Linked DNA regions of Homo sapiens. The protein of the gene in region 1 purifies or fractionates together with the protein of each later gene. This does not show direct contact. Each region holds a gene or a part of one and is shown in the gene's direction. Other genes may lie near its edges.

Region 1 (5,776 bases):
GCATTAGTATTAAATTCTTAGATACCTGAAATGCAGATGAAAATCTCTGCTCAATATTAAGGCCATTTATAACAGAAAGAGAAACTTTGATAATGTCAATCAACACTCACATATAAAGTACTGAACTTTTTGTGCTAGGATAACTTCAGATTCCTGGGTTTCTCTGATTCTGTAAGAATGGTGGAAGACACCTAGAATAATAACTGAACTACATTTTGCTGCCACCTTCAATAGTTGGGGTTTTGGTACAGATATGTTGGATTTAGAGAAGAAATTAACATTTTATTTACACCTGAGTTTGAGAAGCTCATTCACACTGCACATGTTTAGAAAGTGTTTTTTAAGCTGTTTATGGTCTTTGAATCTTATATTTGGTGTATTTAGAGATTCTTATTTTGCTTTTTGTTTATGGTGAAATTTTCTGTGCACTCATGTATATAGTATGCGATTCAGTTTATGTGTGTGTAATCAAGTCTTTCAGTAATTTTCTTTGTGATGGTGCTTTTGTCTTTTTTTAATAAGAACATCTTTTATTTACTCAAAAACTGTGAAAAATATTCTGCATATTTTAATTCAATATCCTTAATATTGTTTTTAAAATATTACTTTGATTTCTAGTTCATCATAAATTGTAGACTGTGTGTGTATGTGTGTGCATGACATGAAAACTGGGATGTATGTTATTTTTTTCTTAATATAGAACCTACTGTTTCACCAGGTTTACTTCCTTTTCCAGTGTCAAATCTAGGAGAGAGCCAATCCTCATATATTCCATATTTCAATTTTCTTGCTATTTCTGATCCCTGAGAAATACCAACTTAGGAAATCAAACAAAACCAGAGGCCACATCTCAGTCTATACCTTCTAGACTCACACTAGCATTACATGAAAAATAGTAAATATCTACCTAAGTCCTTTTAAAATTTTGCAGAATTGTACATTTAAAAAGCTAAATAAGATATGAGTAAAATAAATTTGCAAAAACGTGCGGTCAGTTCTGAAGAGATTTCTGTGAACCCAGACCTGGTTTGACTTCATTTTTGTAAAATCAGATATGAAAATTACTCTATTTATGCTCCGAAGGTTGATTTTCAATTATTTAGAAACACTTGTTTTCTGTATGTCTAGTCTGTGTGCTGCTTTAAGCTCTGACACTCAAGTTTTTACAGTGGCCCTAAGGGAGGAAACGTCTTGAATTGGGCCAAAGGTGTGATATACCAGTGAACTTGTTGATTCTCTTATTTACTCACAAGGATAACATTTTTCCTCCAGATTTTCCCATCCTGATACCATTCTCAGTTCAATCATGGGTGTAAAGGTTTGAGACATAAATATTGCCTCAAAATGTTTGTGAAAATTTAATTTAAAGCTGGTTAAAACCTATATTTTTCTACTGGATTTAACTAAGAGATACCCTGGGATTTATTCACAAAGGTTAGTCTAATTCTGAGGATTGAAGATTTATAATCTGTCTTTTCTCAACCACTCAAACTAAGGCACAGATTTTCCTGATGCTGATGAAAAATGAGTTTACTGATATAAACATGTGGGAGTCTGGAAAATTATCACTTAATATTTAAGAACATGGCCAATCCAGATCTTAAAACTTGACTTCTTCAATGATATTTTGTTATTTTTTTGAATTTGTAAAATTGACAATTTTAAAGATTAGAATAAAAAATTAACCAGAAATATATCATTCAGAAATAACAACTTATTATTATTACATTTTTTCTTTTCTTTCCCTTGTAATCTATATTTCTGTTAATTGGGAACATGCTGTAGATGGAGTGTTTTGATTTTCCCCCAGCTAAACAGCAAAGCACGTTTATTACTTTCGGATTTGGTCTCCATTCCTTTTTTGTGTAATAGGGAACAGCCCTTCTATCGACAATTGGAATTCTGTTGGGTTTTAATTGTGTAGTTTTGCCTTTACTTCTCAAAGAGGACATGTGTTTCAGGTAGCCAATCAGAGTGCCCCACATCCCTGGATTTATTCATGTGACAGAAGCACAGCCAATCAGAAAAGTTATTTTCCATGTTGAGTGAAGGTGGCAGAGAATGGCACTTCCTACTGTGATCCTAAATATAAGGCTACAAAGGGGGCAGTGATTGACTCTGTCATTACATGGAGAGGCCCCTACATGAGAATAAAGTTAGTGTACAAAGGAGAGTAGAGTGGGAGAGAGTAAAAACAAGAGTCTAGTCAAGAATTTGATTTCTTTCTCCTGCTCTACCTCTTGGACTTCCAACTTCTGTGAGTCAACATAGTGCCTCTTGCATTTAAGGTAATTTGTTTGGAATTTTTCTCACTGTCAACCAGAGAGTCCTAGTACTATAATATTATATCACAAAATATTTCATATCTCTAAAGTTTTTAATGCTTTTTTTCTATTCTCCTTGTTTCTCAGATGATCTAAAACTTTATTGATTAATATATTTGTAAATTCTGAAAAATAGCCCATTCTAAGAATATACAATTCTATGAATATAAAATACTGTCTCAATAAATATTAGCTCTTATAATAATAATTATTATTGCAATGTGTATTGTCATTTCTATAAACACATCAGACTCATTTTAACCTTTCCCTTTCCCACATTTTTGGATATTTATATTTTAAAATTTCAATTTTTTTCCCTTTTAAGTAAAATTTGCTGTTTGTCTTTCAATATAAATTATTGCAACTTAGAATTCTAGCTATTGAAATGCTAGAGAAAAGTATCAGCTATTCTTTTTATTGTATTTCTCAAATTTTTCAAAAAAATTATAACAATTTCTTTCTGCAGAAACATCTCATCACACTCTTATCAGCATTGAGTTTGTAAGTTATTATAATTATTGCCAATTTAAAAGATTTAATTTAGTTTTTCCTTCTGTGATTGAGGCTATATAATTATTATATGATCATGATTTATTGATGCTTTATTATATAAGGTGTTCAAACAAATCTTTTTAAAAATTAATTTAATTTAAATCAGTTTTAAATTTAAATTTTAATCTTAAACTTAAATTTAAAAATTTAAAATACCACTTAATAATCCTTCTGAAACATATTGGTTCACCTACAAGCCCATAACTCATTCCAATCTTTTCTTTTTACTATAAACTTCTTATGTGTGTGGTTAAATATAGAGTTCTGATCTGGGGCTCAGAACTTGCATTTTAGGAGGAGAGACTAGATAGACAACCCCTCCAAGGCCTTTCTCAGTCTGCAATTCTAAGTTACAATAAACCTTCCAAGCAAGTTTAAAAGCAGGGAAGAAAAGCAGGGACTTGAACAGGTATTTGTGCACCCATGTTCATAGCAACATGATTCACAATAGCCAAAAGGAGGAAGCAATTCATCCCATTCTTCTTCCAAGAACATTTGCTGAAAGGGCCAAACGTTTTCCCTACTGTTTTAGGATGTTTTCTTTTTCACAAGTTCATTTTAATGCATATTAAGAAATTCCTTGTTCAACTTTAGTGAGCTAAGAATCACCTTTAAATTTGTTTAAAATGCAAATTTCTGGATTCATCCACAGAAATTTCAATTAGTGAGAACTGAGGAAAAACCAAGAAGCCTGCATTCCACAGGTAGGCCAGAGGCGTTTCTGCTGTGTGAGATTACCAGGCAAAAACTTCAGAAACACTGAGTGATCATGTTTCAACACTATTTATTCTGTGTTCTCCCTCCCTCCCTCCCTCACTGCTTCCCTGTCTCTCTCTCTCTCTGTCTCTCTTTCTCTCTGTCTCTCTCTCCTCTGTCTCTCTTTCTTCCATTTACTGTTAATCCCCATTTCTACCACCTGTCCCGGGCACCCTATAATCTACTTTGTGTTTGTCTCCGCAGTGAACATTTGAATAAGAAGAGGAATGAGTGTAGATTGCTTTATGAGATATCAAAATGTTTTATAAAATGATAATAAGTACAGGTACAGTGTAGTGCACCTGTAGGCCCAGCTACTTGATAGGCCGTGGGAGGATTCCTTGAACCCCGGAGTTCTGAGTCAGCCGAGGCAACACTGTGAGACCATGACTCTTAAAAAAAAAAACAGTAAAATGATAATAAGTAAAACAGTATATTATTGGCATATCAAAACACAATAAACTGTTCAGAAACAGAATTATTAAATATAGAAACTAGCTTTTAAAATTAGGGATGAGAGAATAGATTTTTTCCCAAATAATTGATGATGAGATTATGTATAAACCATGTGAAAAAAGACCACACTAACTTCTTACTATCTATTAAAATAAATTCCAGATGGTGAAAGATTTCTAAAAATCTATAAAAGTAACAAAATACAGTATTTAAAAAATTCACATACTTTGAGATGAGAAAGGATTTTGAGAAGAATGAAACCAAAAGTTGAATTCATAAATCAAGAATTAAGAAGGTTGCAGATTTAAAAAACAAAAGAGTATTCTGGACAGGCCCTGTGCATGTTCTCGGGAAGTAGAAAGGGCAGGGCCACAGCTGCCTGAATTCTGCTTTTCACACGTGTACTGTCCATGTTCTCTCCAGATCAAGATGTTGCAGAGGCTCCGCGTTCTTGTGAGAGTATGTTCCGAGCTCTCTGACCTGTCACCATGGGATCACTCTTTTGAAGAGACTTCCTGGAGGACACTGATGACAGTGTGAAAGCAGGGATGGGAGGAAAAGCAGGGAGGGGAGGGACAGTGTGGCACATGGCCGCCCCAGAGTGCCCATTCTCACATCGCCATTTTAGGCAACTTTTTCTTTTCTTTCCCATTCTCTGCACTCCTATGCTCAACTTTCCTGTCTCTACTTTCTGATGTGTTCCCCAACACCCACCTTTCTTTAATTCCATCATTCTCTAACCTTTCTACACACATATATACAAACTTAGTATCCAGCCTAGAACAGGAGGCTGTCCATCTCCATCACTGATAGATCAAGGTCTCCAGGTAATGACTGTTAGAGAATCACTCAGGTTGCCACCAAGTAGGACTTCTTTTACAACGAGCCTGGTAAGGTAAGAAAACTCAGGAGGTTGCTTCTGCAATTAAATAATTGGTTCTTCATGGAGCATGGACCAATTTGTCAAAGCACTCTAGGGGCTCAAATTCCGTTTTAGCACTGGCCATTTCAGTAGTCATTGTGTTTGACAGCCTAGAGAGAGAGATACAGTCTAGCCTTAAGAAGGGAAACCAGACTGATAGAGGCCATAGAATAGCAGCTAAGGACAGATGTGTGGAATTTAGACAAAAATAGGCTTGAACCAGGAGTCTGCCGGATCTAATGTGAGATTTTAAGCAACTTCCCTTCACGGAGAGATGTTAATAACTTTACACTTCTTTTTGCAACTTTCATTGTTATAATAACAACAATGCTAAAAATAATATATTTATTATAGGGTTGTTTGGATGATGGTGATAATGTACTTAGAGTGCTTAGTCTAGTGCTTGGCACTTAACTCCTCATTATGCTAGCTATGACTGTGTATCATTGTTTTTACTTTAGGGTGACTTCAAGAATGTATTTATCCCAGCTGCTCAAACTTGAACCTTCCTTGACCCCTTCCCCAAGGGCATCTATGGTCAAATAAGGGCAAGAGGAGAAAGAAAGACATGGTTAAGGAATTTTTCTTATCAAAGTGGAATGTTCGAAAGGGGAGGGTGGCTCTTTTCAGAGCAAGTTCTCAACTCCTGGAAAGGGAAAAGATGCATTTATTTCAGACGAAAGGAGCATGTGAGCCTCCTCTCTGCACCCTCCCTTTCTCCCCACTGCTGTCTTGATTTCCTTTCTCCTTCCCTCTCTCCTTAATC
Region 2 (4,269 bases), on another chromosome or scaffold:
CCTCAAAAATCCAAGTAGCTTTTTGATGAACTGCATTTTTCTAAATCCTGACCAATAGACTATTTTTCATCTCACCTATAGACCCACATGTTAAAAAAATACCACCTAAATTATAGGTGGCTATGTGAGAGCCTGGGGATATTCACGCTAGGCAGTCTCATTCATAACACTACCATCCTCCATTTGCAGTGATGCAGGAAACAAGAAAAATGCTACATTTCGTTTTGCACCTTAAGCTTCATTAAAGAAAATCAAGCAAAACCTGCGACCATAGAAGAAATAATCTCCCAGTCTTGAAAAACTACATGAAGTGTTTTTTATCTTTGATGTGCACATGGAACCCAAAGCAGGTTCGGGAACATGGCACAGACTCACAGCCACCGTTTGGATTCTCTGCGCACCGTTTTGATTTCCTGTGCATCTATGCTAATTTCGTCTCCCCAGCCTATTGTTTAAACCCTAGCAGGACAGATGTGCTGTTTTACAGGGCCATAACCCACTTGGTGGGTGGATAACCAAGAGGCCTTTGGTCTTCATCATTTACTCCAATAAGAAAACTAGACGATTGCCTTGTAAAACAGCATGTGACCCAGGCCCGGATTTCCACGTAACGCCAACCTACAGGACCACCTCGGAACTTCCAACCAAATTAGGAAAATTCCTCCTGGTCACAGAGGTGACCAAAATTAGCTCGAGGCTGAATGAAATTATGGAAAGGACAATCTAGGGGTAAAAACAGTAAAAACAAGAGGGCTGGGAAGTGACTTACAGTACAGGAATTTAGGTTTAGGCCACACAGGTGTTCATGTGAGTAAGAGTCATCATTTCTAAGGCTGAAAAGGTTGGCCACTGCTGGTAAAAATTCTAATCCTAGTAGGCTTAGAATCTCTCTCAATCAAAAGATAAATCCCAAAAGTCATTGCTAAGGATTCCCCCCATTTTTCTTTACCTCCATCCTATGTATAACCGTAAGTTACTACCTCTCAGCCCTCATCATGAGAGCCCAGCACTCCTGTCCCGGCAGCCCTGAGTGACATCAGCATTGACTGTTGGGAATTGGTACTTGTGAAATCCAGAAATGGGCTACAATAGATGCAAATGGACCATCATCAATGTGCATTAGGATTGCCCCAGCCACCCCCAGATCTCGAAGGACCCCTGCAACCCAGTCACACCAGCATCCTTGCCAACAGGTCGAAGCAGGGTGGATTAGGATGAAGGGATATCATCGTAAGCAGCAAAAGGAAGTGATGAAAAGAACACAAATAACCAGACATTAACTTTGGGTTCTGAGCATGCTGCTTTCTGTCCGTTTAATCTATCTTTTGCTGATGCACTTAAAGAAGCTACCTTGTCTTCTTAATGTGGGGATCTCTGATGAAGGCTTGAAGCTCTGAGACCCAAGCATCAGCCCCAGCTCTGGCTTTCCCTAGTCACATGACCTTGGAAGATCACTTCTTTTTTTTTCCTTCTTTTACTACTCTGAGCCTCAGTTTCCTCATCTAAAACAGGGCTTAGGTTACTTGACACAGTCTATATAAGTATGGTAGAAGTTTTTTAAAAAATGAGTCTGTAAAATGGGACTATTCCAAGAGATTTCAGAGATGCCTTCCCATCTTAACATTCAACAGATCTATGATTCCTTTGTTACAGCTCATGTCCCTGGTATTTCTTTCTTTTTTGAGATGGAGTCCCGCTCTGTCACTCATGCTGGAGTGCAGTGGTGTGACCTTGGCTCACTGCAACCTCCACCTCCTGGGTTCAAGCAATTCTTCTGCCTCAGCCTCCCGAGTAGCTGGGAGTACAGGCGTGCACCACTATGCCCAGCTAATTTTTTTGTATTTTTATTAGAGACAGGGTTTCACCGTGTTGGCCAGGCTGGTCTTGAACTCCTGACTTCAGGTGATCCGCCCGCCCCGGCCTCCCAAAGTGCTGGGATTACAGGTGTGAGCCACTGCGCCTGGCCGTCCCTGGTCACTCTAATCGTCTTCTGTATGGGTTTACCAACAGACTCATCTCTTTGTACCCTGTACAATCCTACCTTGCATTTTCTCATAACCTTATCATGTTACCTCTCAATTATGTTACAGCAAGGAGGTAAGATTTTGCCATTAGCCTGATGGTACAATTTTTTAAAACAATAATCAGTTGCCAGAATATATTCTTGCTTTTAAAGTTCTACATAATATTTCAAAAATATATAGGGAAGTATTTAGATTTTCCTTCCACAGCTGTTTTCTGCTTGATTTCAAGAGTTAACTGAACAGTTTGCTGTCTTGTGTCCAATGTGTTTCTCCTCTCCATTAAAATGCTGAAGATTTTTATTTTTTTCCCCTCTTTAGGGGGAAAAAAGAAGTGTTTCCTCTGTAATTTACTTTGGCTTTCTCAAAAGTTGGGCGGGAAAGTCAGTATAATTCAGGTGGAATCTAAAATGTTCTTGTTGCACAAGTGTGCACAGAAAGGAAACCTATAATTTCGAGTATTCTTTCAGGAAGTTTGTATTCTCTGTTTTCCAGGGGGCCTTTACTTTCCAAGGGAGTATGATCGACATGCCATTACTGAAGCAGGCCCAGAACACTGTTACGCTTGCCACCTCCATCAAGGAAAAATGATCTGTTAAATGAAGCTGTCATCAGGTGGGCTGAACATATACAGTGGGGTTCTTAAAGACAAACCACAATACTCAAAGCAACTTGTTAGGATGCCAGATTGGGACCTGACTCCATTTACAGTTCATGTTAATCACAATTTTGTTGTTGTTGTCTCACTGGCCAGTTATTCCCCTAAAAAAATGAACGCTTTTCCCTTTGGATCCAAGCTTATGATTTTATCATTTTTAGTGTATTACGAATATGGGCTTATGATTTCACAGGGAGGTAAGATCCTGGGGAAAGATGGGCTGTGAGGCGAAGGTAGGTCTTTAATGAAATGGATCTTTCCCAAATAGACATATTCCCTCCACCCTTCTCATGTTAGTAAATGTTTCCTGCTTGTTCATTTATACAGCTGACACCACAAATAATTTTAAGAAAAGCCAGGCCTTTAAAACATAGTAGCAACATTAAGGGGTCATCTCTATTTCACTAGTAATCTGATAAAACAACAGAGATGGCATCAAAAAAGAATACTAAGTATTATATTGGCTTAAAAAGACACTTTCTGAAAATAAACTTTCGAAACTGGTTACTATTAACCTCCACCCCTAAAACGAAACATCCATCTCCTTGAACCGCTAGACGATGAACACGAAAGCTGTCATCCTGGGTGAATGCTGTGAGTCAACCATTACCGGCAATTAAAAAATAAATGTGCAGAAACACAAGACCATCCATTCTCCCCCTTTATTTTCCCGTTTAACTGTTTGCCATTGAGGCTATTTCCCCCTGGAAATGTATGGCTGGGACAGGACTCCCTCAGTCATAAACTTGTAGCGTCTCAGAAGACACAATGCACCCGAGCTGGTGCATGTGGCCCCTGCGAGATTTGCATCACATTAGAGATGCGGCTGCAGGTCAGATGGGTGGTGTGGTTAACGGGCTTAGTAAAGCTGTTTTGAAGAGGTTAACCCAGCTTGTAGTAAGGGTAAATAAACATAACAACCAGCCATTGTTCCCTATTCAGCATGTACTCTTATATTGAAGGCTAAAGGGTATTGAAGCTGCAGAGGGATCAACTTGTGCTTGCCAGAGGACGCCAATGAAGTTTGAAACACCAACAATCAGAGATTTTGTTTCTGTTCCTCATTAAATCATGAGCTTTTGTGCCGAGACTCTGGACGACTGTTCCTTAAGAAATTAACAGAATGGGAAGTTTTAAACTCTACACCAACCTTTTCATGACCTACACAGCAGCAACGCTGCTACTCTTAGACAAACACCGCGGGGAAGGCTGTTCTGTTTATTTAAATTTGTAAATAGAAAACAGTTGTTTTTTACTTTCATTTTTCACCTCCTCCTACGCCCTTTTGGATTATTTCCTCTGCGGCCCCTAGCATGAGCCCCAACCAGGCCTCCCCTTTTCCCCACTTCTCTCAATTCCCACAGGAAGCCCGAGAGGTGAGGAGCTGAGGTTAGACACCAGGAGAGGCACCATCACACAAAAGCGCGGCCGCAGAGTCCCACCGCCACCAGGCGACCCCCACCCAGAGAGGGACAGACATGCGGGGAGCCAGCACCGGGCAAGATGGCTCTGGGGATCCTCATTCTGTGAAGACACCAACTCATTTCTCAAACACAGGATCCAGGAGACAGATAGCTCCTAAATGGAGAT

The links.
Region 2: the proteins of RNASE9 (region 1) and CLYBL purify together in Homo sapiens (affinity purification with mass spectrometry; one large-scale study listed by BioGRID and IntAct). This does not show direct contact.

The regions. Positions count from the first base shown.
Region 1 is NC_000014.9:20,557,386-20,563,161, reverse strand, and holds the start of RNASE9 (inactive ribonuclease-like protein 9), read left to right. Parts: upstream 1-2,114; 5' UTR 2,115-2,288; intron 2,289-2,790; exon of another isoform or gene 2,791-2,825; intron 2,826-3,528; 5' UTR 3,529-3,580; intron 3,581-4,511; exon of another isoform or gene 4,512-4,546; coding exon of another isoform or gene 4,547-4,547; exon of another isoform or gene 4,548-4,621; coding exon of another isoform or gene 4,622-4,622; intron 4,623-5,776. UniProt on the Homo sapiens protein: Does not exhibit any ribonuclease activity.
Region 2 is NC_000013.11:99,888,802-99,893,070, forward strand, and holds the end of CLYBL (citramalyl-CoA lyase, mitochondrial isoform 1 precursor), read left to right. Parts: intron 1-2,516; coding exon 2,517-2,612; 3' UTR 2,613-2,636; exon of another isoform or gene 2,637-3,322; intron 3,323-3,621; exon of another isoform or gene 3,622-3,641; 3' UTR 3,642-3,769; downstream 3,770-4,269. UniProt on the Homo sapiens protein: Mitochondrial citramalyl-CoA lyase indirectly involved in the vitamin B12 metabolism. Converts citramalyl-CoA into acetyl-CoA and pyruvate in the C5-dicarboxylate catabolism pathway.